5 separate regions of the Homo sapiens genome follow, and all the other regions are linked to region 4. Evidence: fine-mapped expression QTL. A gene starts in region 4. Each other region holds a variant in brackets. All regions are shown on one strand. Distances are from middle to middle.

Region 1 (5,000 bases), 130 kb before region 4:
ACTGTGCAAGAAAATATATCCCTTTTTAAAAAACATCAGTTATGGCTAAACTACAATCTAGTGTCTAGAATTACAAAGAATAAAATGAAATCAAAGATTTCTCGCTAGTAAAATGAAATGTTAGGAACAGTATTAAAATATAGGTCCTACCCCAACGACACTTACACAGAGCCCAGTACAGTACCTATTATTAACAGGACGCATAGCTTAAGGAGGAACCACATCAAATCTTCAGCCAGACATATCTAGCCTCAGAAGTGCAAAAAAAAAAAAAGCCCCCAAACGAAGACACCCACACTGAGTAGGGTGCATGCCGTGAGTGCTGTAATCAAGATTAAAAAGACCTCAGTTTTTCTTTTTAGACTGTTGATAGTGACAATAACCATTATGCTTCCCCTAAAAGCTCTCAATTCAATGTCTGAAACATGAATGTTTTCATATCAAAAAGAACTGATGTACCTGCCACCCTCTAAAAAGTTTAAGAATTACCCTGCAAACATTGCACTGATGAAGGCTGTCACGACTTACAGAGCCTAAGGAGGACCCAATGGCAGGCATCAGCACAGCTGAACACCACCTGGACCCCACTGCAGCCCTGCCCACGCAGCTCTCACGGAGCAGACACAGTCCTCAAGTAATAAGCACAGATGGAGGAGAAACGAGAGGCTGTGGAAGGCAGGAGAGAAAGGCCGAGAGACGAGTTTGTAAGAATGCCAAAGTCACCTTCCCCATTGTGGGAGGAAAATGCCAAAGGCACTGGTTCTGCTGCCACAGGCAGTCTGAGCACCTGGAGTTGTGACGTCCTTCCAGGAGAGGTGCCACCAAGGAGCAGGAGGTTTGTCAAAGCTCTGGTCCCACCAACAAGAACCTCCCAAAGCAAAGCAGCCCCCATTGAGGTTCCAAGGTCGTTTTGCTGAAGACGGGAACGAAACCAACACCAAAGCGACAGGGGGTTGACAGAGGGGACAGGGGCTGGGCACCGGCAACATGGAGCCGTTCAAGTAAACATAAACCACCAAATACTTAGAAAAGGCTTGTAAACGAGTGATCCGAAAGGTTCTCTTTGCAGCATCTCTGATCAGCTGGCTAAAGAAAGGTGGGTGCTGAACCCGTCTTTAGTGTTATCTGTTTTGTGTTAAAGCACACGTGTGACACGGGCAGAGTGTGTGGGCCTGGGCCTGGATCGCACGCAGCCGTGGCCCTCTGTCTACAAAGGAGGTGCTTCTGGGTCCTGGTTCCGGATCCTTCCCCCGCATGTTCATAGACGGACAGACTTCTACTTTCAGTCGCTAGAAAAGAGCTGAGTCTGGTGTCCCCTCAGGCGGCCAGCTGCAGTCATCCACAGCACAGCATTCTCCTAGAGCGGGCAGGCTGGAATCCACAGGACTTTATTTTGTTCTTGATTGACCATTGCCAAGATCTGAGTGCAAATGCTTGACAGGGCTCCTCCCTGGATGACCCCTGCAAAAGAGCCCCCCAGACACGTCATTCAGCTCAGAGTAAGACCCCAGGTTTGAGGCAAGGCAGTACAGCTTGCACTCTTTCTACTGTGTGGCTGTCTGCTTTGTGCTCCTTGGCACTCTGCTCCATCCCCACCTGACTCTCCTTCACCAGCAAGAAACTGGGAAAGAAAATTGCCCCTCTTGAGTTGATCACTCATATGTAAACTGCCCACCCCACTGCAGTTAACACCCTGGGTTGGGTTTGCAATGGTTGGGGGAATCCCAGGGCATCAGAAGGAAGTTTGGAGGACATGTGGCGGTGGTCTAATCATTAGCAGGATTCTGCAGGAAACGACAAGTTTAAGGAGCCAGATAGCTCATGGCCAAGAGGAGAGTCACAGAAAGATGATGGCGCCAACTTGGGCCAGCCCTGTACTATAGGAGTTTGACAAAGGGGTCTATAGACACCAGGCCAGGGGTACTCCAGTGTGCTCCACATAACAGCACCTGGACACAAACCAAGCCCCTACTGCAACAAGGCATGCTCAGAAATTGACAGTGAGTGTCTAGAAACTGCTATGGAAACAGGACGTCGTAATTTTATGTCTGTTGAATCTAACAAGAAAAAAATAGAGCTTACCTTTTGCAAGACTTAGAGTTTTAAATTTTCATCTCTCTAGGAATTGTCAGTGTATTTGGCTAAATACCAGTCTGTGAGGAATTGGAAATGAAAGTTCACACACACACCCACACACACACACACACAGAGGCATGCACACCTGCACATACCTACACACACATGGGCACCAAGCCCAGGTCCCTGGACTAGATCATAACACTCTCCACAATGCAGTTAGAATCCCTGTCCCATCCTCTGTGACTGCAAATGCTAATGCCCTGCAAATGACAGACTTTCCCAAAGAGGCTGAAGGCCAGAAGGTAAAATAGAACCA[A/C]ACTTCACTGAGTTTGTTTCACTTTGAAGACCAGAGATGGTAAGGGGACAGCATTGTTTTTTTTTGTTTTGTTTTTTGTTTTTTTTTTTTTGGAGGGGGGTTTGCCAAATCCCGCTGCAAAACGGGACTGCCCTGGAGGGTGCTAGGGACAGATGGGCCCCTAGCCTCCGCTGCCCACACTGCTGGCACACTGGGGGCTGCTCCAGTCCCCGCCCTGCCTGGGGACACTGTGGCTGCACTAAACTGCACCTGTGCTATGAGACAGACCCACCACTGCACGTGTGAAAATGAGCAGGCAAGCCAGGCAGGACCTGAGGCCAAGATCGGTGAGCTTAACATTCAACCTGTAAGAATCCTGACGTTGGCCAGGGACTGCAATCTGAACACCTGACTTGTCAGGAACGTGCTCATGACAGCACTTGGGAGCATGTAGAAAGTGCGGGCTTCTCCACGGCTAAGAAAACAGCCTTAGGAAGCCTCTGCTTCCTTCCCTGCTGCCTGCTCCCCACTCCAGGCCCACGCACACCTACCTGTGAAGTACCTGCTGTACTCCTGCTCAAGCTTCTGCGCCGCCTCAAACTGCTCTTTGGAATGCCTCTGAGTCACCTTGTCCCTCAGGTAGATGGGGTCTCTCTGCTCCCTGTGGGGACAGCCAGACACCAGGCTGAGCACTGAGCCTCCTCCAGGCCCTCTTTCCTTCCTCTGTCCAGGCTAACAGGGGCCCCATCAAGGCAGGGGTAGGCTGTGGAGGGAGGCCCCATGTGCTCCCCACATAAAGCACAGCAACAGCCTGTAGGCTGTCGGGGGAGCTCTGGGCAGATGGGGGAAGGAGGGCCCCCCAGCACACACACTTGGAACAGATGCACCAGCAGCCCCTAGCGCAGGTCCCAGAAGCTCAGCAGCACAGAAAGGCAAAATGGAGCAGGGCCTTGGTGAGCCCTTGGCCCAACCAGCACAGGAGCCGAAGCTCAGCGAAGGCAACGGCTCCTGAGTCATGAGCCAGCTCGGGGCTGAGTGGGACTGTGCCCAGGCCACTGGCTCCCCTGCTCCTAAGCAGCACGTAGCGAGGAAAGGGGGCTGGGGCAGGAGAGGGGAGCTGTGCAGACCAAGCTGGCCATGCCCAAAAAACAGTGGCAGCACCCAAATGGCGGAGGGGCGCGAGGAAGGGGCTGCGCTTGGCTGACACCACCTCTGAGTAGGGGACAGGGCCGACAGGGAAGGGTCATTTTCTACACGTACTGCCTATTTCAAGACCCATAGGCCCATCTCTCATTCCTCAACCCCCCACCCCAACACACCCTGCTCCCTACTTGGGCTCCCAGCCCCACCTGTGACAAGGCCCCAGCGGAGCCCAGGGGGCCAGTTACCTACTTGATGTGCTTGGCGCTCTTGTAGTGGATGAAGATGACAATGGGGTAGATGTGCATGTGGTGGAGCCGCTCAATAGCGTGCGGAGCAATGTCCAGGAGGCAGTGTCGGTTCTGGGGTGGGGGGTGCAGAGTGAGCCCTGGCGGGCAGTGAGGGGCAGCCAGCCCCCTGTCCTGCCACCAGCAGGACCCACCTCACCTCACAGGGCTCTACCCACAAACAAGGCAGTAAAGCCACACAGTACACCGTGGGGAAACCATACCCACGAAACTCCCAACAAACCCCACTTGCTGTGAGGAAGGCCAAGGCTGGGAGCCAGGGCTTAGGGGGCTAGGGGTGCTGGCCAGCCCAACTCCAAACTTCCTTTCCCGCCTTTGCCCAGATACAGGGACCTTCTGAAAGCCCTGCCCCACCCTGGCCTCTGAAGCCTTATTTTTGCCAGACTGAGCGAATGAAGAGCCAGAGTCTGGTGAGCCTTTGTGTGGCTGAGACTGAAATATGTCTGTCATGTCTGTCGTCCCAGGCATCCAGGTGGAGTGCAGGCCCGTGCACTCCCGACCCCCAGATGCTCCACTGGGGCATTCCCCCAAGTAGAGTTTGCCCACTTTCAGCAGTGAGAAGCCAACACCTTCATCTAACAGAGAAGGGAAGCAAAGCCCAGCGAGCGAGCTGAGCAGCCTGGAGAAATGGAGCCCAAGGAGCGGCTGTGTCCTTGGACTCCGAGTGTTTGCCCCACCAGCACTCCCCACAGACGTCCCCGCCCTCGTGCTGCCTAGGATGTTCGAAGGCACCGAGAGTCATAGCCCTTTTAGGGGCAGGGACCCTGAGGGAAGGCACGTTCCTGTCCCCAGAAGGTGCATGTGAAATTGTTCGGCACATGCATTTGGGGACCCCGTTCCGGAATGCCCTGCGAGAGGCCTTTCCGCAGAGCTCAATACTCTCATCAGAGATGAGACCCCCCGCACCTGCCAGAGAGGAAGATGGGGCGGCACATACACAGGGGAACTCCTCCATCCCCACCAAGGGATGTGCTTGCAGAAACACACAGCAGCCATGAGGGCAAGCCCAGGCACAGGTGAACTCAGACTAACACAACACGGTGGGCTCACTGAAGGTCTGAGCCGCTGGGGCAGAGGATCACGGACCAGGGGCCTAGACCTGTGCACAGGAGGTCTAATACTGGATGCCTAATCCTCAGACTGAAGCCCTGGGTACCTTTTCTGTGATCTCCTTTATT
Region 2 (5,000 bases), 45 kb after region 4:
AAATACCAAAATTAGCCGGGCATGGTGGTGTGTGCCTGTAATCTCAGCTACTTAGGAGGCTGAGGCAGGAGAATCATTTGAACCCAGGAGGCAGAGGTTGCAGTGAGCTGAGATCATGCCATTGCACTCCAGCCTGGGCAAAAAGAACAAAACTGTCCCCCCTCTCCCCATCCCCCCTCCAAAATGCAAAAAAAAAAAAACCACCCAGGTTAGACAGTAGTTTCAGTATTAGGGAAGGGGCCTAGAGAACAGCAGGGTAAGCTGTGGCACACACTGACACCAGGGCCGGGTTGGGGGGGGGTCCCAGGCACCGTCTTGGGGCTCAGCTTCAGGTCCCAGGACAATTCCTGAAAGGTAAGAGGGTGAGGTATGGAAGGAGCTAGCCAATACTTGAGACTCCATCAGCAGTGACCAGCTCCCTCCGCGTGTTCTGCCTAAGCGATGTACAAAGCTTTCCAGCTTCTAGATGCCTCACGGATGCTTGGAAGCAGAAATGCATGGCTGAGACTTTAATCTCCACTATATAGACTGGGAAACAGATGCAGAAGGGAGGCAGCCTGCCGAAGGCAATGCCGCTAATGGCAGGCAGAAAGGTGGCTAGAACTGGAGTCATGGCTATCCCAGTCCAGGTCCATTTCTGCCAGACCAGTGGATTTATCACCAGATCTGCAAATTCATACTTCCCTGAGTGCTGTCTTACTGAATAAGTAGCTTATCTTGTACATGAGGAAGATCATGTTGTCTATGGGGAGAGATTGTGATTTACCTGTAACACCAGTGTCAGGTGATTATACCATGCTCCCTGACTCGGAGCTTTACTGCAGGCCACTCGGGTCAGGCCTGTTCCTCGGTGGTGGAACAGACTGCAAGGTACAAGAACAGGCTTCTTCTAGCCTCCGACTTCCCCAGCCCACTGGCACTCCTCCCAGAAATGAAGTTTGGAAGCACAGGCCTACTTAAGGCCTGGACAACCCAAAAAGCTTCCTGAGAAGGTGATGAGACTCGGGTCTGGATACACTGGGCTCTCTTCATGTTTTTTCCCTTTCCTTTCTTTTTCTTTTTTTTCCCCCTGAAACAGGGTCTTCTTCTGTCACCCAGGCTGGAGTGCATTGGCGCAATTTTGGCTCACCGCAGCCTCTGCCTCCCAGGTCCAAGCGATTCTCATGCTTCAGCCTCCCGAGTAGCTGGGACTACAGGCACATGCCACCATGCCTGGCTAATTTTTGTATCTTTAGTAGAGATGGGGTGTCACCATGTTGGCCAGGCTGATCTCGAACTCCTGACCTCAAGTGATCCATCTACCTCGGCCTCCCAAGTGCTGGGATGCTGGGATTATGGGTGTGAGCCACTGCACTTGGCCTTTTCTTTTTTAAAAAAATTAGATCCATATTTTTAGGACGAGTTCATTTGGCTGGTGAGTTGTTCCATACTCCTTGGCAGATTCCAGCTTCCATGACTACCATCCTGCTTCTCTTTTCTGAGTGTGGACTATCCACCTTCATACAGGTCTCAGGGTTGGGGCCAGGCTAGCAGGAAATAGAAAATCATTTCTGGTTAGCCTAAGCCCCAGGAAGCATTTACTGGAAAGTTCTTGGAGAGTAAATGGAGGAGCTGAATGGCCAACCCCTAGGCTATGTGGCTACTGAGCATGTGAAACTCGCTATGTGCTAAGTGTAAAATAGACACTGGAATTGGAAAACTTAGTATGAAAATAAGAGTGTAAAATATCTCAGTCATTTTTATATTGATTACATGTTGAAATGACATTTTGGGTACGTTGGGTTAAATAAAATGCATTGTTAAAATTAATTTCTCATTTTTTCTCCCTAGGCTCAGGTGATCCTCCCACCTCAGCCTCCCAAGTAGCTGGGATTACAAGTGCGTGCCACCATGCCTGGATAATGTTTTGTATTCTTTGTAAAGACAGGGTTTTGACATGTTGCTCAGGATGGTCTCAAACTCCTGGATTCAAGCAGTACTCCTGCCTCAGCCTCCCAAAGTGCTGGGATTACAGACGTGAGCTACCATACCTGGCCAATACTAGATTTAAAATTACATATGGGCCAGGAGTGGTGGCTCACACCTGTAATCCCAGTACTTTGGGAGGCCGAGGTGGGTGGATCACGTGAGGTCAGGAGTTCAAGACCAGTCTGACCAATATGGTGAAACCCCATCTCTACTAAAAATATGAAAAAATTAGCTGGGCATAGTGGCGTGTGCCTGTACTGCCAGCTACTTGGGTGGCTGAGACAGGAAAATTGCTTGAACCCAGGAGGTGGAGGTTGCAGTGAGCCAAGACTGCGCCACTGCACTCTAGCCTGGGCAACAGATCAAGACTCCATCTCAAAAACAAAAACAAAAACAAATTACATATGACTTACATAATTACTGTCATCTATATTACTATATACTACAGTACTGCTGGACAGTGCTGTGACTAGATTAATTCCACAAGGAAAAGAGCCATAGGAATATTGCTCATCATTCTAAACCCAGGACCTGGTATTGGCGCCAGGATATAGTAGGGGGTCAAAAAAGTGTTATTTGTTGAATGAATGTTTGACAGTCACATTTTCCATCAGCCCTGAAACATTTTAAACAGCCTGCAAAGGGAATGTGATCTAATTTAAATGTCAGTTTATATATTTAAAACAAAACAAAACAAAAAAACCCCACCGTAACTCAAGCATGAAATTTGCAAGAAGGGGAAAGGAAAAGGGAGAATGAAGGGATCAGGGTCTCAGTCTCTTTTTTCTGAGGGATTAGGGGGATATTCTGACCTTTGTCAAGCCAAAAAAGAAAAAAAGAAAGGTCCTGCCCATCAGAGGCAGAGATACGATCATCCTCCACTTCCTGTGGCCCTCCCCCTCTTTCTTTGCTAACAGAGGCGTCTATTTTTAGCTAGGCACATGGCCACCCAGAGTCCAAACATTTTCCAGCCTCTCTGGAGCTGGGTTTGGCTACGTAAGTTCTGGCTCATGGGATGTAAACAGAAGTGTCAAGTAACTTTTGGGAACTTTCCTTAAAGGGAAGTGCTATGTCTCTTTCCCCTTCTCCTGGCTGGAATGCCT[A/G]GAACCTCAGCAGCCACATTGAACCATGAGGAATGGTGGAGGGGTGGTGTAGCAGAAGGCTGGGAGGGGCCTGGGTCCCTCCCCGACAACTTGGTGAACTGTCGTATCAGCCTTGGAATGCCTACTGTGGACTTTTCATGTCAGAAAAGAAAATCCTATGTATTTCAGGCTTGTTGACTTGCATTTTTTGGTCACCTTGTCCTAACTGGTGACTGGTGCCTACCAGCCTTACGTTGCTATCACTGGAAGGGACCACTCAACTACCTTGAGAACACTCAAGTACCTTCCCGGACAGGGTCTGCTCCAAGATGACTGGATTTCTTTACCATCAGCTGTTGATTTATTTTTTTGAGACAGGGTCTCACTGTGTTGCCCAGGCCGGAATGCAGTGGATCTTGGCTCACTGCAGCCTCCACCTCCTGGGCTCAATTGATCCTCCCACCTCAGCTGGGACCACAGATGTGAGCCATGATGCCCAGTTAATTTTTTTGTATTTTTTGTAGAGATGGGGTTTTGCCATGTTGCCCAGGCTGCTAGGTATTGATTAAAAAAAAAAACAAAAACTGGCAAGACCTTCAGAAGGTACAAAATTAGAAAGGTACAATAGAACAGAGTGAAGCCTGGGCAACATGGTGAAACCCCATCTCTACCAAAAAAAAAAAAAAAAAAAAAGAAAGAAAAATTAGCTGGGCAATGTGCCTGTAGTCCTACTCGCTCTGGAGGCTGAGATGGGAAGGACTGCTTGAGCCTGGGAGGTGAAGAGGTTGCAGCGACCCGAGATCATCACGCCACTCTACTCCAGCCTGGGCGACAGAGCATGAACCTGTCTGGGAAAACAAACAAACAAAAAACATAGGGTCACTTCCTACCTCTGTCCTTGTCATACCCATTTTCTGTTCCATTCTTCTTCTTCTTCTTTTTTTTTTTTTTTTAACAGGGTCTCACTCTGTTACCCATACTGAAGTACAGTGGCGTGATCTTGGCTCATCACAACCTCTGCCTCCCAGGATCAAGTGATTCTCCTGCCTCAGCCTCCTGAGTAGCTGGGATTACAGGTGTGTACCACTAGTACCCGGCTAATTTTTGTATTTTTAGTAGAGACGGGGTTTCACCATGTTGGCCAGGCTGGTCTTAAACTCCTGACCTCAAATGATCCACCAGCCTCAGCCTCCCAAAGTGTTGGGATTATAGGCATGAGCCACTGTGCCCGGCCCTAATATATTCTTTTAAAGAGAGAGAAAAATGTTAAGTTCTCCCTTATGGGATACCTTCTTACATAATCTAAATACATAGCTGTTGTCAACATCCATACCTCTACAAAAAAACCTGCCTGTCTGAATTATTCTGGTCTTACTACCTGTGACTCTAAAATGAGATCACGCTTACCTTATGGCCTGCATTAAAGTGTTCAAGCCCTCAACCACACAGTGGCCACATCCATCCCCTTCCCGAACCCTTCTCCCCCCCCATGTAAAATACTTCCCACGACCTACTGATTGAGCAGACAGCTGGGTAGTCATTATGTCTAGGGAGGCTGGATCCCAAGTCCACCAAGCTCCACTTAGGGTCAAATAAAGAGAGCCAGGGGATTGGTTTTTAGTTGTGAATTCACAGACCATGTTTTTCAGTAAAAAAAAAAGTCACTGTATTAATAATTGCAAACATTTAATGTGTATTATGTGCCAGGCACTGTACTAAGACCTTTTTATGTGTAATCACGTTTAAAACTCACAATGACCCAATGAGTCAAACACTACTAAACAGTATTCCTAGCTTATAAATGAGTAAAGTGAGGCAAGGAGAGGTTAAGTAATTTGTTCATGTGCACCAGATGGAAAGGGAGAATTGACGCTGGGCATGGCGGCTCACGCCTGTAATCCCAGCACTTTGAGAGGATTGCTTGAGCCCAGGTGTTCGAGACCAGCTGGG
Region 3 (5,000 bases), 110 kb before region 4:
CTGAATGACCATAAGGCCCCCACAGAAAGCGGAAGGCGAAAGCAATGGCTCTGACAGCAGCATGGGCATGGCTGGCCCATGAAGGAAGCAGCCCTTCCCAGTAGAGAAATGAGCTCAGTCCCAGGAGGTGACAGGAGCTCGTGTGGGGAGCCCACCCGCAGATCTGGACATTAGGATGCAGGCAGAGATGAAAAGCTTGGCACCCTCTGCAGCACAAAGTCCAAGTGGTGCAGTTACCCAGGCGGGCGCTGGAGGGCAGTGAGTTGGACCCATGGGTGGCTCTCATCTCGGAGTAGTCGCTGCAGGTCCTGTGGCTCAGGTCCAGGCTCAGGCGTCCCTGGTGCTGGACACTGCGTAAAAACAAGAGGTGAGGAGTTCGGGAGGAGAACCAGGAACAGATGTGGCCACTGGGGAGAAACACACAGACCAGGCAAGGGTTCCCAAGCGGGCAGAAGGGAGGCCCAGGAGCCACTGATTATCAGCCGAGGATAGCAGGCTGCCCTCAGCCACTCCCGGAGGTGGCATCCACTAAGAGCCTTCAGGAAGTAGAAAGGGCCACACACATGGGGCGGTCAGTATCATACCCACTCCAGCCATAGGGTCAGGATTAGGCTCACTAGGAAGAAGTGATAAAAAACAGAGGTTTTGCAACCTGGGTGGGCCTGGGGAGGGGGAACCTGTCCTCCCAGGAAGTGGGTAAGGAGAGACAAGGCACAGAGGACTTTGGGGAGGGGACCTATGTGCCTCACTCGGGACAGCGTGCCTAAGAAAATGAAGGGCAGAGCAGGGATCGCCCACATCAGGCTGCCCTGAGACCAGGCCTCAACAGCATCTTTTTCCAGCTATGTAATGAGGTGACATCTCTTCCCTGCTTAAACTCTACAGTGGTCTCCACTGTCCTTAGAATAAAATCCAAACTCTTCATCACCGCTGCAGGTCCCACAGGGTTTGTGCCCTGTGACCTCAAACCTCTTCTTGACTCGCTGCCCCTTTGACAAGCTCCCACGACTGTGCCTGGGTGCCCTGGCCTTGGCACCGATGGCCCTTCTCCCTGGAGGCTCCAGCCCAGGTCTTGTGCAGCTGGCCTCTTTCATCCTTCTGGTCACAGCAGCATCCCCTCTGCCACAGGGCCCTTCCTGACCACCCACTCTAACTTGCCACCCTCTTCCAAGTTACAGCCCAGCCTGTCACCCTGTTTGACTGCCTTCATAGCCTCTTGGCACCATCTGATATCACTTCGTTCATTTTTTTTTTTTGTCTGCCTCCCACATTTGAAAAACCACACGACATGAGCTAGAAGCTAATTTGTTTAGTTCAGCAATGTATCCTCTTATAATTAGGATAGACCAAGGCATGTAGTAGGTGCTCAAAAAATATCTGTCAAATGAATGAATAAGAGTGGCTTGGAGCCAGCCCACCCTCTTATGAAGTACCAGTTTCCTCATCTTCAAGACAGAAACAGTAATAGGACTTAGCCCATGAGGTTGCTGTTGATTCGGTGAAATGATATTCATAAAGGTCTGAGCACAGTGGCTGGGACATAAGCACTCAAACATCAGCTGCTATCACTATCGTGTCCTTCCAGTACCTTTTGAAACCTTGTGCTGATGAATTCAGAAAGCAGCCCTAAGGCTCCCTTTCCCTGTGCTGCTCTAGCCAGTCCCCTCCCAGGCAGGCAAGGAAGCTTCTCCACCAATGAGCCTCTTTATGCACTCATGGTTCCATGTCCAGGCAGGCTTGGGCAGCTGGAGTACAGAGAAGCGTAGGGTGCCTTCACATACCTGGGATGCAAACCCTGGGGGCCAGCATCTCGGGCCGCAGGTGGAGAGCTGCAGGGGCCGACCCTGTGACTGCGCACAGTGTAGATGGGGTTCCGCAGGATGGAGCTCACAGTGGTGCTGGGGGTCAAACTCCGGGGAACAGTGCCTAGAAATGGGCTTGGTGAGAAAAGAC[G/A]CCCCAAAGGACCCAGCCAGCCCAGGACTTACACAAGCCTTTCCCCTGTATCCCAGGACGCAGCCGCAGTCTTTTGGGAAAAGGACTTGGGAGATGAGTTTTAACCACCAATTCACAATGTGGCTGTGGCTCCTGGCCTGTCTCCATTTGTAAAAAGGGGGGAAGTCTCTTTCATGCTTCCTATTTCCCAGGTTGCTATGGGGAGAAAGCATGTTGACAAGCTAAGACATGTCATGGCTATAAGACAAACCATCCCAGACAGGACAGCATTTCCCAGTTCTCTGGACCTCAGGGCTGAAAACACATGGCAGCTCTCTGAAATGCTGCCTCCCCTCTCCCTGGAGACTAGGCATCCCGAGTTTACACCGACCCTCAGCCCCAGCCCCTGGCTGGCTGACTCACCCACAGACGGCCTGCTAGGGTATAGCGGGGGGTTGCTGTGCCGGCTGGAATGCCCAGGCGAGTAAGGTGCCCACTCCTGGAGCTCCGGGGAGAGTTCTCCACTGGCCGGGACACACTTCTGTTCCTGCAGATGCAAGGGCAAGAGTGTCTGCTAGAAAGAGTGGAGTGTGGCCAGGCGCAGTGGCTCACACCTATAATCCCAGCACTCTGGGAGGCCGAGGCGGGCAGATCACCTAAGGTCAGGAGTTCAAGACCACCCTGGCCAACATGGCGAAATCCCGTCTCTACCAAAAATACAAAAATTAGCTGGGCATGGTAGTGGGTGCCTGTAATCCCAGCTACTTGGGAGGCTGAGGCAGGAGAATCGCTTGAACTCGGGAGGCAGAAGTTGCAGTGAGCCAAGACTGCACCACTGTACTCCAGCCTGGGTGACAGAGTGAGACTCCATCTTAGGGGAAAAAAAAAAAAAAAACCAAACAGTGGAACGCTTGAGCAGCTCTGCAAGCCAGTTTCTGCCCCCCAGGAACCAGCTCCTCCCACTGGGGCACAGGAAGGGACATGAATGGGAACGCTGCCCATTCATGTTGCCTTACACATCTTCAAGGAAGCAGCTTTACTTCAGAAGAAAACCACAGAGAATGAATCTTTCACAGAGATCACGTAAAAGGTGAGAATGCACAAGTGCATCAGGCACGTACAACTCTGCCCGATGTGGAGGGCTGTGCGAAGCTCTTTGTCCCCAGTGAGCAGTGTGGACTGGTGCCTGAGATGCTTTCCACAGTCCCCAGCAATCTCACCCTTCTGGAAACTATGACAGCACACGCAATCAGGCCGTCCCGCTGCCCACTCAGCCTCACACGTGCCACCTCATCTCCCTAGCCCTTCAAGGCAAGTCTATGCCCTAGGTTTTATTGTGTAAGTTCAAAAGCTTCTTATTAAAAAAGCAAACCAAATGCTATGCCCAATAAAGTGTTCCCCTCTTGTGTCACACTCCCACTACCATGCACTTCCACGCCACTTACCTACCTCCTAGCTGGGCCACTTCCCACTTGAGTCCAACAGCAAAGGCAAAGGCACCAGGCTAAACAGGGGCCTGGGACACTGGTGCAGGGCCACTTAGCAGCCCTCCTTCGGCCAACTGCCCCTCTCTAGGCCTCCCCTCCCCACACCCTGGGGCTCAGCTATACCTCCAGGAACTGAGCAGGAATCACTACTGGAGCAAGCTTCGGCCGAAAACTGGGAGCAGATTTTGGCCGGCGACGCTTCTGCCCCAGCTCATCCACCTTCTGGGAGGTGAGGTCCTCATCACAGGATTTCTTGGCCGGCAGGTGGGAGGAGTCCCCATCTCCTTCAGGGTAGTAGCTGGAAGCAATGCGGACCCTGGCCTTGCGAGGGGGTGATGCGTGCATGGGCTCCCCGGGGTCCACGTCAGGGGGCAGGGCGCTCGGGGGACTAGTGGATGGGGAGCTGCCCACCAGAGTGGCTTCTGACTCGGAGCTAGTCTCCAGCCTGTGCTGGAACTTAATGGAGTCGCTCCTTCTGGGAGGTTTTGGGGGTGTCAGAGGCCCCGCCCTCTTGGAGGGCTGGGGAGAGTGAGCAGGCCCAGGACCTGGAAGCAGGTAGTCTATTTTGGGGGGTGTCTGGGGGCGTTTGAAAGTGTTAGGGTCAAAGATGGACTTTCTTTGCTTTGGCTTTTTATAAACAGAGAGCTTCTCAGGCACTGCCGTGGAGCTGAGCATGGCCTTGGGCCAGGTCCCGCCGCTGTTGGAGCCTTCAGAGTCTGCCTTGTCCAGGGAGGCCTCCCCAACCCCACAGGGGCCCACCTCGGTCTCAAAGGGCAGCAGTGGCCGCCGGCCACGCACGTCCACCAGCCCAAAGCCACGGTCCCCAGAGGCATCTGAGCGGAAGGAGCTCAGGCTACGCTCAGAGGCACTGGGACAGGCCTGGGGGCAGACCTGCAAGGGTCCCCCAGGGAATGGCTTATGCAGAAAGGAGCTGCTGCCTCCTGGGGGGCCTGGCTCCTTCCTGTCTTCCAGCCTGTCCGTGTAGAAGATGTCTGTCTGCGTGGAGTTATTGTGCTGTATCAAGTTCCGTTTGTTATGAGCCTGGACCTCCGGGCCATGGGCTCGAAAACTCAGCATCTTATCAGAGTCTTTGATATTTTCAAAAATGTTCTGGCCACTCCACGAGGAGCTCTGAGGGAATACCTAGGCAGGGATTGCAGAGGAGTGAGAGAGAGAGTGAGATGGCAGGACTTGGAGCTGCCACTGAAAACCATCCCCAGAGGTAAAGCAATGGTCAGGAATGGGCCACCTGCCCCTTAAAAAAGAGACAGATAGACAGAGATGCACACACACATGAACACATATGCTTCTCCCTAATGGATAAGTTTTCTCATGGCTCTGGTCACTCTGAACTCAAAGAAGAGTCAAAGTTTTCTTAACTTTGAACACTTTCTGAAATTATCTGGGCCGGGCACAGTGGCTCATGCCTGTAATCCCAGCGCTTTGGTAGGCTGAGGCAGGCGGGTCACGAGGTCAGGAGTTCGAGACCAGCCTGACCGATATGGTGAAACCCCATCTATACAAAAATTACAAAAATAAGCCAGGCACGGTGGCATGCACCTGTAGTCCCAGCTACTTGGG
Region 4 (5,000 bases):
AGGAGGCGGAGGCTGCAGTGAGCCGAGATTGTGCCACTGCACTCCAGCCTGGGTGACACAGTGAGACCCTGTCTCAAAAAAACAAAAGCCCCCAACACGCCACTGTTTGCTGACACACCATGTCACCCTCTTCCCCAGGGGCTTCAGGTGGCATCTTGCCATACCAAATGCTGTCCTAACTTTTTTCTTTCTTTTTTTTTGAGAAGGAGTCTTGCTCTGTCACCTAGGCTGGAATCCAAGGGCACCATGTCAACTCACTGTAACCTCCACTTCCCAGATTCAAGTGATTCTCCTGCCTCAGCCTCCCAAGTAGCTGGGACTACAGGCGCCCACAACCACGCCCAGTTAATTTTTGTATTTTTATTAGAGACGGGGTTTCACCATGTTGGCCAGGCTGGTCTCGAACTCCTGGCCTTAAGAGATCTGCCCGCCTCGGCCTCCCAAAGTGCTGGGATTACAGGCATGAGCCACCACACCCAACCAGCGTTTTTCTAATGCATTAAGTAAAATGAACTTAACTTCTCCTTGAAAAGTATTTTTCTAAGGATTTCATGACCCTCTCCAAAGTCACATAACTCTGCATTGTGGTAAAACTGGGGTCTGAAATCAATGCCCTAGGGGATAAAATCCAAACCCTAATCTCTGCCTTCCTTAGAGGTCAAGACTAGCTCCTAGAACTTCAGCCCCATGAGGCCCCACATTCTCCACCAGACACGGAAAGGGTGAGACCTAATTAATGGCAATTGATCCATCAATCAATTTTCAGAGATTAAGGCGAGCGTTGATTCACATGCTTCCCAACGCAGACTTCCAGTCTGTACTAAGTTCTGTGCTTTACGAAAGACTTTCAGAAACAGATCTTAACTTCTTCATTCAGAGATAGATTAGATAGATACATAGATACAATTAAAAAGAAAAAAATTACTTTGTTGAGATCCCCTCTGTCCTTATCCTCATGGCCACATCTGACAGTCCCTTCCTAGCATCTCCCAAAGCACTATCCCAGGAAAGGACTAGGTTTGCCCAGTAACTCTGACATGACCACAACTGGGGGGAAAGAATGCAGGTTTGAGGGACAGAGATGCAAGTCAGAAGCTCAAAGTGGAGACGGGAGGGCCACCAATGAAATGACCTGCTGTGTGGCCAGCAATTTAGTCTCTCTGTCAGTTTCCTGCAGCTACAAAAATTGAGGTTAAGATGGCCAACGTAAGAGAGCTGTTACCAGGAATGCCTTATAAAATCATTCCCTTAATAAGTGGGGCTTTTAACAGCCAAATAAATGGGTCCCATCAGCCTTTGACCTTCAGGTTGCTAAGGGCAGTTTCTCAGCCCTCTCGGTTCACTTGTTTTTCTTTTATACATATATCCTTATTTATTTTTACTGTACCTATCGATTCACTGTTAAAACAGGGACAAGACCTAGAAAGATGGCACTTTGTTTCCTGGCTCTGAACAAGTTAAATCAAACAATAGGTTATAATTCAAAATTCCTGGTGCCCAATACTTTCTGAGCATTTTAACCACTCCAAGCCAGAGTTTTCTCTCTGGCAAAGAATAACAGAAAGCTCACATAGTGGCAACGACAACTGAACGTGATAAAGCAGAGCGCCTGCCACAACAGTAGATGCCCAATAAATGCTAGTTCTCCTCCTCCCTCAGTGCCATGTCTTCTTCCTCCAGCTGCCTTGTCTAAAAAGGCTGGCTTCCACACTCCACGGCCAGGCCAGGACAAGCCTACCACTTGTCAGAAACTCCCGCCAGTATCCGTTCCTGCACCCAGACACACACTTACAAATCAGTCATCCCCAAGACCAAAGACACAGGGGTTCCAAAAGGCACCCTCAAGGGAACCAGTCACCAGCCTTCCTCGTTAAGCAGCTCTGTGCTCTCAGGGAGAGAACTTAGCCCCAGCAGCCACTACTAGGATTTTCCCATGGTGCAATGCAACTTCCCCAACTTTTCCGGGCCCAGTTTCCAAAGAAACCCAGGCAGGCGTTGTGCACAATCAGCCACCAGTCTGGGAGAGACTGGGCTCTGAGCAGAGAAAAAGGAGCTGGGACAGCCAGAAAATGAAAAAGCAGTTGTGGCCCCGGCACAGGATGGCAGCGACCAAAACTTAAGAGTAGGGGTCCTGGCCCAAGTCCCATTCTTCTGGACGGTACCCTTGGTTAAAGGCTAGCACAGGGTGCCAAAGCTAGCGGACGGTGAGGAGCCTCAGAAAAGGGACTGATGGACATCCTCCGAGGTACCCCCTACCCGCTACTGGACCTGGTGGCCCCCGGGGACCCTGTCGTCGAGGCACCTGAGAGTGAAGGCCTTCAGCGGGGGGCATTGTTCACAGCGAACGGCGGGACTGGGGGAGGCGGCGGGACTTCGGGATCCGCGCACCGCCGCCTCCCCAACTGGGCCAGAGGAGCGAGTCCACCGAGGCCATCGCCAGGTGGAGCGGCGGCCCCGGCGAGGTACCCTCGGCCAGCAGGAGGGAGAAGCGGAGGGCGCGTCCCAGAGGCGGGGGCCAAGGGTCTGCCACTCACCCGCGCCTTCGGCGGGCTGCGGCGGCCCGACGACGCCGTTCAGGTAGAGAATGGGCAGCAGGTGAGGCTGCGTCTTCTCCAGCGCCGCCCGCAGGTCCTGGAAGTGGTCCCGCTCCTTGGCCAAGAGCAGCTTGAGCAGCAGCTCCGCCTTGGCGCCTCCCGCCTCCTCGTCCAGCTGCCGCCGCTCGCCGGGACTGAGCGCTCCCGCGGCCTCGAGCAGCCCGAGCACGGCTTCCACCTCCGTCATGGCCTGGGCCAGGCTCTGCTGACACTGGGCGAGCAGCTCCCGGCGCTGGGGCTCCATGGTGGCGGGCCGCGCCGCCCCGCCCCGCCGGACGCCTCCCGGGCCCCCCGAGGCCGGCGGGCGGGCAGGCGAGCACCTCGGCAGCAGCCCTAGGGCGCCGGGAGCCGTGAGGCGGCGGGAGCCATGGGCCGGGGCCTGGGCGGGCTGGGGGCCCGGGGCGGCGGGCGGCGCTCAGCAGCGGCCGCCTCCCGGGCTCCGGAGCGCAGCCATGTTGGCTGCCGCGGCGGCGGGACTGGAAGAGGAGGAGGAGGAGACGGAGGAGGAGAAGGAGGAGGCGGAGGTGGGGACGGCGGCCGGGGCGCGCCCCGAGGCCGGGCTCCAGCCGGGCATGCTCCCCCTCCCCCTCAGCCTCCGCGCGCGCCGCCCGCCCCGCGAGAAAACTCGCCCCGAAAGCCGGGCCGCGCGCCGCCCCCAGAGCAAGACTACAACTCCCGGGAGAAAGTCGCCTGGGCCGTGTTTCCCAGGCTCCCGACAGCTCCGGCCCGGCTCGGAGGCCGCCTCGGCCCCCGTGCACCCCGGCCCGGCTCACCGGGGCCCCGCGGCCGCCACCCGCTCCCCCGTGGCCACAGCCCCGCCGCCGCCGGCCCGTCCCTCCTCTCTCCCCTCCCCAGGCCGTCCCTCCGGGAGGCGGCAGCAGGGGAGGAGGGGACGGGCGGAGGGGAGGGGTCCCCGGCCCGCCCGCTAGGCGGGGACGCGGCGCCGGCTGGTTCCCGGTCCCCCGAGGCCCAGGCGCAGCCGGGGGTGGGGGACACGGAGTCAGGCCTGGCACGCGGCCAGCCCACAAGCTGCTGGAGACCCCCTCATACAAATCTTGCCCCCAGTCCAGAGGGTCCTAATCTGAGAACTCCAAAATACAGCCTGGAGACAAATGGTGGGGAGGGTTTCCCCTAAATTTGGACATCTCCAGATTAAGACCTCCGCCGAATCCGTGAGGCTTTCCCTCTCCAAGGAGCTCCTAAGAGAATTTCCCAGTAAAATCGCCTCAACTGCGGTAAATAGGCTGTTCCCCGCGCCAGCATTTGAGAAGAGCTGGTCCCCAGAGTGTAAAGGAGTTAGGATGTTGGCAGGAGGAAGGATGTGTCGCCGGATGAGGAAAAGAAAGGTGGGTGTCTGCGGTGCAGTCCTTGGTCTTTCTGGCAAGTGAGGCGCTCTCCCCCTAAATGTCTCAGAGGGAGACAAATCAGCGGACTACCTTGCTTCCTTTGATGACTTGGAAAGGATCTGCAGTCCCCCTTAAAGCCCAAGAATGTCTTCTCTTCCACGACAGCCGTTTGTGGACACATACTGCTTACCTCCCTGACTGCAGGACAAGGTCCTTCAAAGCTGGAACTCTGACTGCGCTCAGTGATCCCGCAGTGCTCCTCTGTAGAGTGGGAACCCAGGTCCATTTCAAATATCTACGTTGGAATGAGTGGATCTCGCTGGGGGTGAGAGGCACTTTGTCTACCCACACTGCCAGTCCCAGCCACATGCCTCCTCCCTTCCCTCAAAAAGCAGTGTCTTCTTAGTCTGCTTCTTCAAGGGGAGAAGTCGTTTTTATTTATGGAAACGAACTCACTATATGGTAGAAAGAACAAGAGTATCAGAATTTGCACTTTGGACTTGGACTCCCCTCTAAGCAGCTGCACAAGGTGGAACAAACCAATAATCCTTGCTGATCTGTTTTGTCCTTAGGAAAAATGGTGGAGGGAGAATATTAGATCAGGGGTTCTTAGCCTTGGCTTCATGAATAAGCTCAAGGATGTCAATGAAGCTTTTGACATGATCTCAACTTTTTTGTGAACATTTATATATTTTTCTGGAATGGGGTCCATAGAGTTACAAGTTCTTTAAGACCTCCAGATGGACCCCAATATGGCAGAAATGAACTATTTAAAGATACCTGCCTGCTCCCGTAGTCTGACCCTCTATGGCTAAGCAAGGTTTTAGAGGAGTGGAAGGCTGGCCATTGCACAGTATCAGGGTTCCAGACAGGCTCCCTGGCTCTTCCCTCCCAGTCCTGCTCCTGAGATATAGTTCTTTCTGGCCGCCACTTCCCTTAGGGCAACCCCAGAGCTTAAATCATCTGCAAGGCAGTCACCTTTCAGGCACCTTTCATCCGGCACCTGTGTTCTTAGCTGGATTAACTAGAAAGCTAGTTGGAGGAAGGAAGGTGAAAGTGG
Region 5 (5,000 bases), 89 kb before region 4:
AGTGCATGACAGAGGGAATGTGGAGGACCTGGGCAGGGAAGAGACACCCCCACAGTCACCCGGCAACAAGTGTCAGGTTCCCAATGCCCTGTTTCACCCTCAATGTGCCTGGGGTTAAGGACCACCCTCTGCACACACTCACTGTTCTAATGCCAACTTGGGGAGCCAGGGGGTGGCTCTCCTCTGCATGAAGCACCCCCCACCTGCCTGGCAGGCCTGTGCTCCAGCACTACCACATGTCTCATATCTACCCACAGGCAGAGCTTTCTAGAGCTGTCCCTGTACCCTGCAACTAGGAAGGGAGCCCCTTCGGATACCAGCCAGTCCTCATGCATCTCTGTCTCTATTAGCTCTGTGCAGGTGCAAAGTACAAGCTTGGCAAGACTCTATGAAAGAGGACCCCAAGGAGGTGGAAACAGATTACCTGGCTGTGGAGGGGCCTGGGCTCTGTGCCACCTCCAGAAATGGACATACCCAGAGGACTGGTTCCTACCTCTCCACAGCCTCGAATCTCCCCCAGCCTCAGTCAGAGCCTGGCTGAGGACTGCCCCCTGGAGACACCCGTGGAAGGGGTCTGAGCAGAAGCAGACAGGAAGCAGCCCCTGGGCCTCCCTCCCCTTGCACTGGGCACCTAACTGTGCTCTCCATTAGCAGGGCCTCACCACCTAGCCATCCTCATCTCCTGACCAGCCCCTAGAGACATTGGTCTCTCCCCTGACAAACCACAAGAAATCTTTTGGACACCTCCCAAATAGCAAGACATTATCTCTCCCCACCCCAAACATCACCACCACCATAGCCTCTCCTGGTTCCTCCCCAGCCAAGGATCAAGCCCACACTGCTTGGCTTCCCTTTCAAGGCCTCTACACCTGCCCCTGGGAATCTCGCCAGCCTGCCCTCCCCACGACTTGCCCACGTCCCTGCCCTGAGCACACTCCACAGGTGCCCTCCATCTGCAATGCCCTTCCCCCTTTTCCACCTGGAAAAACCCCACTCATGCTTCCAGTTCTAGTGCGAATGCCACACTCTCTGGGGAGACCTCCCCACACCCCAGGGAGCCCTGCATGCCCCCCACAGCCCTAGAGCTCAGTTACACATCTTCCTCCCTCACTGCCGTGCCTGACCAAGCCTCTCCCAAGGTCTCCTTGCTCCAGAGATCTAAGACCCTGGCACACAGTAGGCGCCCGGTGAATACTGCTGAAAGGACACACTTCGGATGTGCTCTTCTCATCAGAAACCCTCAAATAAAAGAGGTCGGCCTCGTGCCCCTTCACAGCGGTCTCACGTGGACATAGTACACACTTGGGACACCTAGGGCTGAGTGAGATGGGAGGGAGAAACAATGGAAAATTCTAAAACTAAGAGGCAAGGCTAGGGCATCAACTAGGGGTGAGAAAGGAGGAGCCCAGGTCCCTCCCACTTTACCTGGACATACAGTAAATGATTCCGACCCTCCCAACAGACCCTAGCAGGTCCCCTCATCCTGGGGAGACGCAAGCCCACGCCAGCTTGAGGTCACCCCATACCGGATGCTGTCACGCTCTGCTACAATCTTGTCTCGCTCCTGGAAGGCCCAGTCCCGCCGGCACTTGGCCACATCCGCCTCCTGGAGGGCTTCCTTCAGCTCCTGGCACAGAGCCTTGCACTGCTTTCGAAGGATTTCAACCTCCTTGTTGGCTCTCCCAGCATCCATTGTCACCGTGTCTTTGATCTGGTGGGAGCAAGGGGCAGGAAGAGGGAGAGGTTGCTGAGCCTCATGGACCAGGAGCGCCTCCCACCAGTGCGGGGGCCAAGGCTGAGGCTCTAGGGAGCTGGATGGAGGGAAACACGGAGCCCATCGCAGCACACCCCATACCCCCAGTGACTGCACCCCACAGCCACGGTCCTATTAACCAGCACCCCCTAGCCCCCGCCATGTCTGTGATCCTATAATCTGGCATACTGAGTTATTTTTAAAGACAAAAATACACCAGTATTCCTGCTGGTGAAGTGCTGTGTATCTCAGTTCATTTAAAAAGCTGAAATCCAAAGCATTTGCATCTTGACACATCCCTAGAGAGTTATATGCTCCACTAAAATTTCAAGTCAAACTCTTAGTAGCACTCATATGAAAACCCCCTCCACACCTCTATAATCCTTAGACAACACAGGGAAATGACGGATGACAAAGCAAGTGTTTACTGCAAGAATAACTCCTCCTCCCGCTTGAGGCTTTCCAAACATGCAAAAGAGAAGCACGACA[G/A]CAGAGGCGCTGATGACACTGGTGTCCCCGCCCCGAGACTCTCCACCCCCAAGTGCTAGGACACAGGAAGACACACACGCACAGGAAGAAAGCTTCCGTTCCCTCTAAAGATCATTCTCCAGACAGCAGGAGACAGCAGCCTCTACAAAAATGTGTTCAGAAAGATCTCAGACGTAGAAAACAAGAGAAGAGAATGAAGTTGACAAGAAAACACCTGGAGTCAGTTGATAATTCCCCTCATCTCTGAAAACAGAGGCAGAGGAGCTGAAAAATAATTTGCACAAAAAGGACCATCAAAACTCGAGGGTGACAGTGCAGTGGCAGGCTTTCCTCAGACCTCACGGTTTCTGGGGGTCATTCAAATCATTTCAGTTTTGATTTTTTTTTCAGCTTTACATGGTATGCTGTGTTTGTTTAGTTTGCTATTTTCAAAAAAAAAAATCCTTCTTAAATTTTCATTTTAAAAAGAATTATTTGGGGGCAGGGTACAGTGGCTCACACCTGTAATCCCAGCACTTTGGGAGGCCAAGGCAGGCAGATCACATGAGATCAGGAGTTTGAGACCAGCCTGACCAACATGGTAAAACCCCATCTCTACTAAAACTACAAAAATTAGCCAGACATGGTGGCATGTGCCTGTGGTCCCAGCTACATGGGAGACTGAGGCAGGAGAATTGCTTGAACTTGGGAGACTGAGGTCTCAGTGAGCCCAGATGGCGCCACTGCACTCCAGCCTGGACAACAGAGGGAGACTCGGTCTCAAAAAAAAAAAAAAAAAAAAAAAAAAAGTGTATTAATTTAGTCAAGAATTTATGATAAACAATACTTTGAAAAATTTACATTATATTTGCTGTTTTACAATATATTTATGGATAGTTTTAGAGCTGACACGTTACCACGTGGATTCCCTGAAAGGTTTCTCCATGGTGCTCTAGATGAGCATCTAGGAGGGAGGCCCCAGGTGCAGACAGGACGACAGGCAGCGCAGGAGGTGGGCAGCTCCCCCAGCCCACAGCTCCCTTCCTTTCCCTGGGCCCCACACCATTGCTGGTATCCAAAATGAATTCATCCCCAAAATACTGCTTCCTTATAAGGAATACAAGAAGTACTATACTTAGTTTTAGTGAGAGGGGAGAGGGAAATGAGGTACCTTAAACAAATGGTAAAATTTGGAAGCCCAGAGGACCCAAGTGACGGACTGACTGATTCTGATTACACTGGTGAGGAACCGCAGGATCTAGAAGTGACTCGCCAGGGCTCCCCCATCCTGCAGAGCTGATCAGTACTGGCTCCTCTACCCCAGGCTGCCTCGGCATCAGATGTCAGTCTGAGTCTGCTCTAAAAGCGCCACCTGCAGTCTCTTTCTTCCTGTGCTGGGTGAACAAAGGCGTGGGAAGAGATGGGCTAGTCTTCACAAGACACTTGCCAGACCCAGGCATGAGGCCAGTGAGAAAGGCCTATGGGCTGCAACCCAGCCCCAGAGGGCCAGAGCCCACTCGAGAGTCCCAGGGGAGGATGGGGCCCGAGTGTGGAGTGGTGCCCCTGAGCAGATGGCTCTCGGGTGAGGGCACCTCCCTCTGCTTCCTGGGAAGCTTCTCTTGCTACAACAGCCCTCTGCCTCTAAGTTCTGGAAAGGCCACTGCTGCCTTGCCTTGTCCCCTGGCACTGTCCAGTCTATCCACCACAGCTGAGCTCAGCTCCTCAAGCAGGACCTGTAGCTGCATGTGTAACTGCATTCAGGGCAGCAGACGGCAGGAGCATGGGGGGCTGCCCTTCTACAGACGGAACTCGGTGAGCAGGGCCCGTCTAGGAAAGTGCGTTGGAACCTGGGAGATTTCTGCAACAGACAGCAGTGGCCTACAGCTTCCAGTGGTGCCGACCTCAACTCCCCAGGCAGTTCCTCCCTCCTCCTGGGAGCAATGAGACTTCCCCGGACAAGGTCAGCTACTGGCCTGAGGCAGGAGGGCGGCCTTAGGGGAGCTCCCGAGGATATCTCTCCCCTGGGAGCTGGGAAGAAGAAGGCGAGGGAGGCAAGGGCACAGCCAACCTGGCAAAGATCCTGACAGGCCCCCGGCCTCCCCATGCTACCTCTTTGCTCCCTCTTTGCCTCAGCCCACTCAGAACACAGAAGGGAGAGAGGGCATAGAGAAGGAAAGGGGAAAATGGAGCAAGACGTGCAGATAGAAGACAGAAGCGTGCAAGCACGATGCCAGAAACTGAAGCCCAGCCCTCGGGCTGAGCAAGATGAAGATGGCTCTGCGGTGAGGGAGCTAGACCTGCCAGAAGGCCCCCCACAGCTGACCCCTGACAGGCAGCAGCCAGTGGGGTGGCGGGGCCAATCCCCAGGGTGCCTCACTGCCCACCCCTCCTGGTCTGCTCTTGCCGGTGGAGAGTGCTCTCTTATCCATGAAGCCAGACCAACTTGAGAAGGAGCTGAGGATTTCAGCTCTCAGAGCTGATGGGGCAGCCGCGGGGGCTCTCTCCTGCCTGCTGACTCGGAACAGGGCCTGGAAAAGATCCCTGCCTCAGCTGACAGGTGCACTTGATGCCCAGTCAACACCCCCTGTGGAGGATGGAGGCGGGCTCCAGGCTGAATGGCTCGCCTGAGTGCTGGGAATGCGGTGGTTGCCGCAAGGACGTCAGGCCTGGAGGTCTCATTGCTGGACGCCAGCACCACAGGGAACTCAGGTGTTCTTTGTGCATCTCTGTGCTTTCTATATTTCTACAAACAGTCTTCACGATTAACTTCAAAGATCTC

Which allele goes with the higher level. Alleles are on the strand shown, and positions count from the first base shown. SD is a standard deviation of normalised expression in the study named. Not every link is listed here.
For the expression in whole blood of the gene that starts at base 3,073 in region 4, G is the low allele of the variant in region 3 and A is the other (small effect, 0.37 SD a copy in GTEx).

What was found.
Region 1: its variant is fine-mapped to the expression of DLG5 in blood mononuclear cells (TOPMed, PIP above 0.99). The same link has a PIP of 0.9 or more in lung.
Region 2: its variant is fine-mapped to the expression of DLG5 in tibial artery (GTEx, PIP above 0.99).
Region 3: its variant is fine-mapped to the expression of DLG5 in whole blood (TOPMed, PIP above 0.99). The same link has a PIP of 0.9 or more in pancreas, subcutaneous fat, thyroid, tibial nerve and transverse colon.
Region 5: its variant is fine-mapped to the expression of DLG5 in whole blood (TOPMed, PIP above 0.99).

What each region holds. Positions count from the first base shown.
Region 1 is chr10:77,791,083-77,796,082 of GRCh38, forward strand. DLG5 (discs large MAGUK scaffold protein 5) reads right to left here. Exons shown (of 32, transcript NM_004747.4): 29 at 4,979-5,000; 30 at 3,767-3,876; 31 at 2,926-3,035; 32 at 1-1,461. The coding sequence ends at 1,358. Among named protein-coding and RNA genes, the nearest start is that of DLG5, 130 kb to the right of the region's middle. The variant A/C (reference allele first, on the strand shown) is at 2,396.
Region 2 is chr10:77,968,530-77,973,529 of GRCh38, forward strand. No RefSeq gene overlaps it. Among named protein-coding and RNA genes, the nearest start is that of DLG5-AS1, 44 kb to the left of the region's middle. RefSeq lists enhancers at 2,579-3,089, 2,722-3,016. The variant A/G (reference allele first, on the strand shown) is at 3,072.
Region 3 is chr10:77,817,540-77,822,539 of GRCh38, forward strand. It overlaps DLG5 (discs large MAGUK scaffold protein 5), which reads right to left. Exons shown (of 32, transcript NM_004747.4): 15 at 3,543-4,562; 16 at 2,356-2,479; 17 at 1,782-1,926; 18 at 238-350. Among named protein-coding and RNA genes, the nearest start is that of DLG5, 110 kb to the right of the region's middle. The variant G/A (reference allele first, on the strand shown) is at 1,954.
Region 4 is chr10:77,923,683-77,928,682 of GRCh38, forward strand. It overlaps DLG5 (discs large MAGUK scaffold protein 5), which reads right to left and starts at 3,073. Exons shown (of 32, transcript NM_004747.4): 1 at 2,535-3,073. The coding sequence starts at 2,838. It overlaps DLG5-AS1 (DLG5 antisense RNA 1), which reads left to right and starts at 3,130. Exons shown (of 1, transcript NR_024585.1): 1 at 3,130-5,000. RefSeq lists a silencer at 4,766-4,942.
Region 5 is chr10:77,834,212-77,839,211 of GRCh38, forward strand. DLG5 (discs large MAGUK scaffold protein 5) reads right to left here. Exons shown (of 32, transcript NM_004747.4): 8 at 1,527-1,711. Among named protein-coding and RNA genes, the nearest start is that of DLG5, 90 kb to the right of the region's middle. RefSeq lists a silencer at 2,083-2,355 and an enhancer at 2,777-3,397. The variant G/A (reference allele first, on the strand shown) is at 2,243.